Linked DNA regions of Homo sapiens: region 1 is linked to region 2. Evidence: fine-mapped expression QTL. Tissue or cell type: fibroblasts. Region 2 holds a variant in brackets; the other region holds the start of a gene. All regions are shown on one strand. Distances are from middle to middle.

Evidence for each region. PIP is the estimated chance that this variant, and not a neighbour inherited with it, causes the effect.
Region 1: it holds the start of LMBR1, and the variant in region 2 is fine-mapped to the expression of LMBR1 in fibroblasts (GTEx, PIP above 0.99). The same link has a PIP of 0.9 or more in T cells.

Annotation. Positions count from the first base shown.
Region 1 is chr7:156,890,612-156,895,880 of GRCh38, forward strand. LMBR1 (limb development membrane protein 1) reads right to left here and starts at 2,572. Exons shown (of 17, transcript NM_022458.4): 1 at 2,317-2,572. The coding sequence starts at 2,382. It overlaps LOC102723795 (a long non-coding RNA gene), which reads left to right and starts at 2,787. Exons shown (of 4, transcript XR_928253.3): 1 at 2,787-3,052; 2 at 4,821-4,901. RefSeq lists silencers at 1,664-2,163, 2,214-2,793 and an enhancer at 5,096-5,175.
Region 2 is chr7:156,676,760-156,682,028 of GRCh38, forward strand. RNF32 (ring finger protein 32) reads left to right here. Exons shown (of 9, transcript NM_030936.4): 9 at 1-371. LMBR1 (limb development membrane protein 1) reads right to left here. Exons shown (of 17, transcript NM_022458.4): 17 at 1,032-5,269. Among named protein-coding and RNA genes, the nearest start is that of RNF32-AS1, 19 kb to the left of the region's middle. The variant C/T (reference allele first, on the strand shown) is at 2,511.

The DNA.
Region 1 (5,269 bases), 210 kb after region 2:
ATGCAAATTAAAATTATTTGTATGATGAACACTATAACACACTTGCTAGAATGACTAAAATTAAAAAGGACAGAAAATATCAAGTATTGATAAAGATGAGTAACAACCACACCTCTGAGACTGTCAGTACTGGCGGAAGTGTACACTGGTACAACCACTTTGGAAAATTGTTTTAAAGTATCTACTAAAGATGAACAAATGCACACTCTTTAACCTAGGGATTCCATTCCTAGGGCTATCCCCAACAGAAATGCACAAACATGTCCACCAAAAGCTATGTACAAAAAGTTCATAGCCAGCCCGGCGTGGTGGCTCATGCCTGTAATCCCAGCACTTTGGGAGGCCAAGGCAGGTGGATCACCTGAGGTCAGGAGTTCAAGGCCAGCCTGGCCAGCATGGAGAAACCCCGTCTCTAATAAAAATAGAAAAATTAGCTGGGTGTGGTGGTGTGTGCCTGTAATCCCAGCTATTCAGGAGGCTGAGGTAGGAGAATCACTTGAATCCCGGAGGCAGAGGTTGCAGTGAGCCGAGATTGTGCCACTGCACTCCAGCCTGGGAGACAGAGCGAGACTCCATCACAAAAAAAAAAAAAAAAAAAAAATATATATATATATATATATATACACACACACACACACACACACACACATATATACATACACATATATATACACATATATATATTCATAGCCAAAACCTAGAAACTACTGAAGTGCCCATCAACAGTAAAATGAAAAATAAATTGTGCTATAGTCACACAACTACTGCACCGAGAATGAATTATAACCACATACAACATGGAGAAATTTCACAAACATTGTACAAGAAACTGGACACAGAAGAGTATATACGGTAAGATTCCATTTACATAAAGTTCAAAACTAAGCAAAAACTAATCTATGATATTAGAAGCCAGGGCAACGTTTACCCTTGGTGGAGGAGAAAGTAATTGGAAGAGGGAAAGGAATCAGTCTCTGGGATCCTAGTAAAATTGTGTTTATTTATTTATTTTTTTATAATGGTAGAGATGGGGATTCACTATGTTGCCCAGGCTGACCAGTCTCAAACTCCTGGTGGATTCAGGAGTACACAGGCGTGTTTAGTATGAAATGATCTGAAGGGTACATGTATGATTACATGAACTTATCTCTGTGTATTTTAGCTTCAATTATAAAAATTACAACTAAATGTGTACCAAATTCCACTAACTCAAATTCCACCAGCTCAGACTTTATATGTCCTCTTTATTCAAAGTATGACTTCCAAAGTGATTCTCAATTTTCAAGATCAGTGAGTACACAAATTAGATAATTCTAAAGCAGAATTTTTTCACCTCAAACCAAGTGTGACTGAATCGTAGACAACTTAGGAGAGGCGTAAATATAAACATAAAAAATTGACATATTTTACAACAGTTATGAAAACACAGATAAACCCAATTACAATACATTCTAGAGCATCATGAAAAGATAAAAACATCAAAGTAGACTTTCCAAGGTCAAGTCCGCTTCCTGACTCCTGCCAACAGCACACATGGAACATGGGCCAAAAAAGAAGCTGCTTCCCTAAGAAGTTGCTTCCATAGCAAAATGGACTTTTGCTGAGGTCCTCACTCCCAAAAATAACCAATATTCTCATCCCAAACGGTAAGGTTTCGAACTCAACCCACGTGGGGGCTGGGGGAGATGAAAGAGGGATGGAAACGTGAGGCGCCAGGAGGGCAGGAGGTGTTGACCGGGACAAGGTAACCGGCCGGGTCCAAACGCGAGAGGCGGGCGGGCTCCGCGCAGCCCGGCCCTTCCCGGACCCGCCGGGCCCACCCAGGCTCTCCGGGACGCCTGCGCATCCACCTGCCTACCTGGCCTGGCGGCGGAGCGCGGGGGCGCGCACTGGCGGGGCCGCCGTCCACACCCCGAGGCGCGAGCCGCACACCCGCCCAGAGAGGAAGCCCCTGGGGTCCCAGAGCGCGGCGCGCACCGCAGCCCTCCCCGCGGGAAGGGAAGGGCAGCACCGAGGCCGCGGGGCGGGGGCGGGGTCGGGGCTCGAACGGAGGGAGCGCGAGGGGGCAGGGGAGGCAAGAGCGGAGCGGGGGGGCAGGCAGAGGAAGCGAAGGGGAGGGGAGGGGAGAGGAGAGGTGGGGAGGGAAGGGGAGGGGAGGGGAGAGGAGGGGTGGGGAGGGAGAGCGGCAGAGGCCGGGGCGGGAGGCGCGAGGCGAGGCCCGGAGGTGAGGGGTCCGGGGACCGGGGGCCCGGGGGCGGGGACGGAGGGCCCGGGCGGGCACGCGGGACTGTCAGGGCTGCCTCGGTCCCCACGCACCGTGGACTCCCGCACTTGGCTGTGGAAGTGCTGCTCCCGCGCCGACACCTCGTCCTGCCCTTCCATCCTCCTTCATGCCCGCCGCCGCGCCGCCCGCGTCCGCGTGCTCCGCCACACCATCGTCCGCCCGCCGCAGGGGCTCGGACAGCCGCGCCGGGGACCGGAGCCGGCACGGGCCCGCGAGCCGTGTTGGAACAGGTACCGCGACCACGACACCGGCCGTCGCCTCAGCAGCCTCAGACGAGCAGCTCTGACTAAGGGAGGGCGGGCGCCGCGCAGTCGGGGGCGGGGCGGGGGCGGGGCAGGGAGGGGAGGGGGCGGTGCAGGCATACGTCAGACGAAAGGCGCCGATGCGTCAGAAAAGCGCGCCTCGCGGTCTTCCGAGCTGCTGGGCCGGGAGGCGCTGAGGGGGCGGGGCCTTGAGGTCGCGGGGCGGGGCTCCGCCCACGCTCTCAGGGGCTACCCCAGTTAAGGAGGCGCTGTCCTGGCGTCGGATGGGGACGGGGAACGCGGCGAGGGCGCTGCGACCTCTGCCCACCTGGCCCGGCCGCAGTCTCGGAGTTCCTGTTCCTCACAGGAGCTAATTATTTATGACAGCTGCATGGTTCCCCTCCCCCAGTTACTCAGTGCTTGGCACTCGGCACCCCTTACTCAGCACTCAGTACCGCACTCGGCCTCAGGGGACCTGGGCAGAGGGAAGCAGGGAGTCTCCCGCGGAAACTCTTGCTCTGCCAAAGTAGGTTGAAAGGTCGGAAATCGGTGGTTTGGGGCCGGGCTTTGGGCGGAAACCCAGCTTCTCTGGGTCTGAGAAGGGTCTTGGGCTGCCCCACCTGGAAAACGCAGATAACCGAGCTCGCTAGACCCTTGCCAAGTCCTTCCGGTAGCTCGGTCACTAGGGTCAGTTTTATGACTCTCAGTGGACCCTAAACAGCACGTAATATATGTATTTTTCACCGCCAAATATATCAAACACAATAATTCACCCTCCGTTCCCTATTATCTTTCTTTTTGTTATAAAATTTGAATTTAAGGGAATGTTTATAATTTTACCTTAGGATTTATTTGGCTACGAGGAAGTCATTTAAATTGCTAGTGGCTGCGATTTTTGTTTTTGGCATCTTTGAGAATTCTTAGGAAGTGTGAAAATCTACAAATTGCTTTCAAATGTCATTTAGTTTTTGTTTTTGTTTTTTTTTTTTTTGAGACAGAGTTTCACTCTTGTCGCCCAGGCTGGAGTGCAATGGCGATCTCTGCTCACAACAACCTCTGCCTCTTGGGTTCAAGTGATTCTCCTGCCTCAGCCTCCCGAGTAGCTGGGATTACAGGCGCCCGCCACCACGCCCAGCTAATTTTTGTATTTTTAGTAGAGACGGGGTTTCACCACGTTGGCCAAGCTGTTCTTGAACTCCTGACCTCAGGTGATCCGCCCACCTCGTCCTCCCAAAGTGCTGGGATTACAGGCCTGAGCCACCGCGCCCGGCCGTTGTTTAGATTTTTATGAATCTAAATTTAACAGTCAATGAAGTTGTTGTAAAGTTCTTCAAAGACAAATATGTGGTAATTTAAACCTTGCCGTTTCTCTTCACAATTTTGAGTAGAGAAAATTTTTTCACAACTCAAACTTCTTATGGTGCTTGGCGAAGTTGGAGGCCCCGACACACGGTTTCTATGAGTTCACTATAGCTGAACATTGTGGTGGTGGGAGAACTTAGAGAACCTGAGGCTTGTTCTCAGCATGTGCCCTGCTGCCACAGGCTGATTGATCATAATCCAAGAACAACTGTCAACTGGTTAAATTCAACGTTCACCTTTATTTTTTAGAATGTCTTGGAGCCCTAAAGAACCTGGATAATTTCTGGGTTAATTCTCTCCAAATCAGAGGGCAAGCAGATTAGATTTTAAAGTGTATGGCATTTAAACACAGATTCCAGAAAGTGAATGCATGTAGTATTCCTCATCTTTTTAATGCAATACTCCAACCATCTAGACCTTTTGATTTTCTTTTATGCAATCATCCCTAGAGGTTTACCCACCACTGGTACTTGTAACACTTAACCCAGGGTAGTCAACTTCAACAATGGCCACGTACTCACCACTCCCTATACGCTCACCCTCTGCCATCTGGCTTTGTCCTTCCTCCCAGCAAGAAATGGACTCTACTTTCCAGCCCTGGAATCAGCCTGGCTGGGTGACCTGCTCTAGCCAGTGGGACATTGAAAAATACAAAACTATAGGAAAGTGCTTGTACATTAGGACTTGCCCTTTCTTACGGACCCTAGGGACCCTCAATGGCCACTGGCCACTGCATCATAAGCCCCAGCCCAGCTGAAGATAGGTGACCTGGTCACCTCCATCACCCCAGCCAACACCCTCTTTCCCACATCCCTAAACGCTGTTGTATAAGACCACATGGGCCATTGTAACGGCTTTGGCTTTTATTCTGGGAGAGGTTAGGAGCCACTGTGGGTTATTGACAGGTGTGATGTGATCTGACTGCTGCTCAGGGCCTGGACAGCAAATGAGGAAGACTTATTGCAGAAATTCAGAGCCTAGTGACCTGGACCAGGGTGGAGGCAGCAGAGGAGGTGAGAGGCGGTCGGTTTCTGAATGCATTTTGAAAGGAGGATTTCCTATCAGGATTTCCTATCACATGGGGATGTGGTCAGAAAAAGAGAAAGACAGGGAGGGCTCCAAGGCATCTGCCTTAGCAGCCAGAAGGACAGTTGCATCACCAAAGGGGGGGAAGGCTGCAGTTAGAACAAGTTTTGGAGAAAAGACACAGAGTTCTTAAAATGTGATGATGACACCTCCTGGCCACCAAGATATGCTGTGTGGATATGAAGTTTCATTTCATATCAGAAGAACATGGCTGGCAATAAACATTTAAAAATATGTTTCATCTCAACAATACCCAGGACATGCAAATTGAAACCTAAATGAAGTACCTTTTCAC
Region 2 (5,269 bases):
CCAGGGAAATAAGCTATTGGTAGTTGTAGGAAATCTTAGTATATTTTAAAAGCTGACATCCCACCTAATTTTAATCTTTGGTCTCTAAAAAGTAAATTTCAAATTTATGAGTTTAATCACTTCAAATATGAATAGCAAAAAATGAGAGCTTGCTTACTTCTAAAAATTGAGGTTAAGATATAGCTAGTGTCTGAACGACACTCCTTAAAGTAAGTTCCAAATGTAAAACACTCCTTAAGTTCCAAATGTTTTCCGCTAATAGTCTGTCCTAAAGCCTTTGCCATTCCTAATACTCGTTTTGTAATAATTGCTGTATTTCTGTGTAATAAAATATAAAAATAAAATATTCAGTGGTATTCAACATCAAAAAAGTGCAAATTTTAATGTCTTAGAGCAATAAAGACTGTTTTAGTTCACACATTTTAAAAAAAAGTGAACCTTTTTGGATAAGAATTGTTTTTGTCACTGGTTTACTATTACTGGGAGCTTGGTTATTTACAGTAACCAGTTACAGTCTCATCGGTTAGGTTACCCCTAGCCGAGTAACAGATAAAGCCCCAACTCTCAGTGGCTCGCTGAAGACACATGATTTCTGAGGTGTCCAACCCATGTCAGCCATGGGTGAGGCAGGGCGAGGGTACACCATGTGTGACCCTGGCTCCTTTTGTCTTGTGACACAGTCTCCTTTGCCCCCGAGTCCCCAGTGAATCCTGTCACTGCTGGTGGAGGGGCAGGAGGACATTGTTCCAGGCCATGCTTGGGAGTGGCGCTCATCACTCCAGCCACAGTAACTACAAGGGGCAAGGAAAGGGCAGGGTGTAGGCCTAAGAGGAAGAGGCCAAGTGGGTGTGCACATGGCATGGGCTCAGAATAACCCAGCATCTAATGTGAGAAGAAATGCCAAAATTTCTATTTATTCTTATCTCATCCCTTAGAAAAAATACTCTCCTATGTTTTGTGATGTACACATTATATAGCTACATATGTATGTATCATTTATGAATAAATATGCATATATTGGGATGTGCTCATTTTTTAAGGATGTATACTATCAAAAAATTTGCAGACTAATTTGGAGAATGCTTTAAACAATGAGTAAGCACTTTTATTCTAAGAGAGCAGAGGGAAACTGAATCACAGAACCTCAATTTTCTGTAAGCTGACATCTCTCTCCCCATAGCGTTGACAGGCAAAGCACAGGCACGTGTCAAAGGCCAGAGCAGTCCGATTCCGCCGCCCTAAACTTTGGATCTAGAAGGAGAGTCCCGGAGATACATGGATCATTCAGTGATGGGAAGAGCCCAGGAAAGGTTGTGCCTAAGGCTGTGCCCAACACTTCTTCCGGGGCTTTCTCATCACATCTGTGAGCCATGCCATCCACCCCGTAAACCTTCCGTGCCTATGTTGGCAGAGTCCATCTCTATTCTTTGCAACCAAGTGCAGTACTTTACTGACACAGGAACTAGTGTTAGTTGCAGGCAACAGATACTTAGGAAAATCGGTGGGATGAAAGGCAGGAATGGTCATCTAACTTCACTGAGGATGAGGGTCGCGAAAATCCCATGAGTTCTGAGGAATGGTCCAGGGCAGCCTGTGACAGTTAACAGAAAATCAGGCAATTTTCTTACTGAAAAGTGGCCATGGAATGGCGCGCCCATCGAAAGCTTGCGAGACCAAGTTGCAACCACAGAACGCTAAAAAGGACCTGAATGAAGTAGCTACTTCTCTGGACAATTTGAAGATAACGCCACATTGTCAGGTCAAGTCAGGAAAACAGTGCAAGCTTTTATACAATTACTCCACAGCCTCATCAGGTCTCTTCTATAAAAACTGGGACACTGACCAAGAAAGAGTGGGGCCTTTGGAAACATGAGTTCATGGGAGGACTCAGCGGACAGGGAGAGCCCTGTCTGCTGCCCTCATTGTGTCTTCCTGGTCAGCTACAGCAGTCCCTACGGGATGTGGCCATTCCTCCCTTATTTTAACAGGTTGGAACCCACTTGTCTGACAGTCACCTTGCAAGATGAAGCCACTTCTTGTGCCTTCTCACACATCCCTTTTTGCCTTTAAATCCACTTAATTAGGAGCCTACCATTCCATGGGCGGGGGGAATCATTAAATCACTATCAAGTCCAGAAAGAGAATTCTTAGCGAATTGTGGGACTGGAGGCATTTGATAAGAATAAAGGTTATAATCTAGAATGAGGATACCTGTCATGAATCTTTATCAACCAGATAATAGAACTGTAAGGTACATGAATGAACAAGAAACTGAAAACCTAAAACAAAGAAAAAATGAGACTGCGGTTGTACTGGCCTGTATTTACATCCAGTTCATCTGCCCACTGTAAGCGTGACCCCAGGCAAATGTCTGCAGCTTTCTCAGTGGCGTTCCTTGTCGGTAAAATGCAGATGTGTATTTTCGGCTTCGCAAGGTGGTCCTGGGGGTGACTGTGGGACGACAAAGAACTCGACCCTCCACACCACGCCCCAGGCCCCTCTCACCACCC[C/T]TGCTTCCAAGTCTTTGATGAGATTCCACAGTAAAGACTAAAAAGAAAAGAAAAAGTGAATCACTCTTCAGACTGAAGGATAGCCAGGCCAGAGAGGTGGCGAGGAGGAAGTGAGCAGGAGGAGGACGATGCTCCACTTGTCACTTAGTTCTCTGACTCTACTGTGGAGTCCATATAGAACAACTGTGGATGACTTCAAGATGCTGTTAAAGAGAAGTTGCAGAATCAATATAAATAGCTACAGCAGTATCAAATATGCTTGGTTCTGAAGTGTCAGTGTTTGTAAGCGGCATCGTTCATTCAGTAACAGCTTTTCAAAGGAAAGGAAAGGAGAAGACATTACAACAGCCACAAAACAGTTTTAGTAACTGTTAAAACTTCAGTTCTCAGACCCATAGCCCACACGTGACTCTCCACCTCCTCACACTCAGACACAACAGATTCTTCTACATCACTCTAGTCCTCCACAACCACTCACATCAGGGCCGCCCTGCTGTTCATAATCCAGGCTCATAAACTTGACTTCTGTACCACCTTTAGAAGTAACAGCAGAACACCAAATCCATATCCAAGAATAATGAGGTTTTGTGTGAAGTTCCTATTTGATTATAGTTAACCTTGAAAAAATTTTTTCCTAATTAAAGAACACAGAATTGGAAGTTAAATAACTTCTCTTGAAAAGGTAAGTTTATTGCCTAATATTCCTTCAAGACATATGGATCAATCACCAAGTTTTGAAATTTTGTATATATTTGTGAGTTTTAGGAACTTCTCCTGATATTACATTTTCTACAGTGCAACAAGTAATTTGCGTACACAGTACTTTTGCTTCAGTTGTGTTTGCAGCAATAATTTTTACCTAAACAATATTCAAAAACCAAAAAAAAAAAAAACTCCAAAAAGGTCTTTGTATTATTTCTTCTTTTAAACCACATTCCAAAGGGATGCTTTTCAAACTGAAGTCTGCCATCTATTAGGAGGCCACAAAGTAACTTAGTGTCTGTGTCTAGTATTTTTAAAAATAATAAAACAGAAGATGCCAGCATGCACACTTAGGAAAAACAAGTACTGTCTTGTTAAATTTTTGCTTATACGTATCTGAGAGACAGAGAGAGAGAGAGAGAGAGAGAGAGAGTGTGTGTGTGTGTGTGTGTGTAATGGGTTATTTCTTACTGTGGTCAAAAAGTTGAAAGCCACTGTAAGTAGGCTTCTGTCTGCCAGTAAATTAACCAGATGCTAACAGCATTTATTCTTCCAGGAACTCTGGGTTAAGCTGTCCAGACCACAAGTAGGTGCTGTTCAGTCCTTTTATGGAAAAAATTAGAGAAATCAAGTCTAAATAATTCAAGTAATTAAATAAAATACATGCTATCAATTATTGATGCTACATTGTGGGTTATAAGAAATTGATCTACCAATAACTGCACAACAGAGAAAGAAAATATCCATTTCTTAATTCAACATTCATCAGAATAATTACTGCCCTCTATAAAACTGAAATGGAATTAAACTATAAATACCCTTAAGTTTTAGCCATGATAATATTTAAGATGGAAAAAACAAAAGAACAAATAAACCCCACATATAAATGCTTATAAACCAAATATGAAATCACTTTTTGTACAACTTTTAATTTCTAAGACATTTAAAAAGTCACACTAAAAGTATCTCATAGAAACAAAGACTAACAATTTGTAAACAAAACAATCTGTAAACAAAAATCAATTACTAGTGTGTCCAAATGTTATTTTTAAAAGTTAACATTATACCAGTTTTTTCAAGTTTAAAAAGTCGGTGCTGCATCTATGTTCACATTAAAAAAAAAAACTTGTAAGAATTCTGCCTTTATGCATTAAATAACGTGCTACCAACAAAACTAGCACATAAGAGCCTGTAAATGATGAAAACCTGTGTCCCTGGCAGACGAGGTCATCACTGAGGCTGCAGGGAGGGCCATGGGCACCCAGCAGATGGGGAGGCCGCACTGCCGCTGAGAGCAGGTACACGTGCGCCTTTAACACATCTGAGAGCAAAACGCGAGAGGCTCCGTCCATCTCTACTAACCAGCACCTTAGTGCAGCAATTTAAGGAGCTAACATTAGTGTGTATGTGTGTACAAATTTCATGTAAAGCCTCATATTTAGAGGTCTATTTTTACAGAGAATGTACATAAAGCTACGTAAATAGTAAATCTAAGAAGTATCTTGGAAAATCAGTAAAAATTAATACAAATGTTATAATCTGAAAACTTATAATTGTAAAATAATTTATTTAAGTATTGCAGAACCAATTAATAAGAATCTGCAAGTTTTCCCCAAGAAACTCTGGAACCATAGTGCCTAATGCCCTTTAAAATCGATACTAAAGGAGAGAGAATAAAAGGACTGCTTGATGTGACAGTCACTGGTGCATCCCTATCCAGTCAGAAACAAAACTGTAGCTCCAGAATTGACCTGATGATGAGCATCTGCAGCTCTGCCTTCCAGGGTCTATCTCCTCTCTTTCACTGGCGTGCAGGAACTGCAGTAAAATGAGGACCCCCAGAGCGACTGTCCTTACCAGGACTCAGAACGTTTGGCCTCCGTATTCTGGCATCCATTTCTGGAGTTCGTCATATAAAGCAGCCTCCGACCTAGCTCCAATGGAAGCACCTGCATTTGGAGTCAGTCTCTCCAGAGGCAGATGCTTGGGCATGTGCTCAGGAAGAGCCTCGAGGAACCGTGATTACGCAGCAGCCCAAGGCTGTAACAATCTATTTG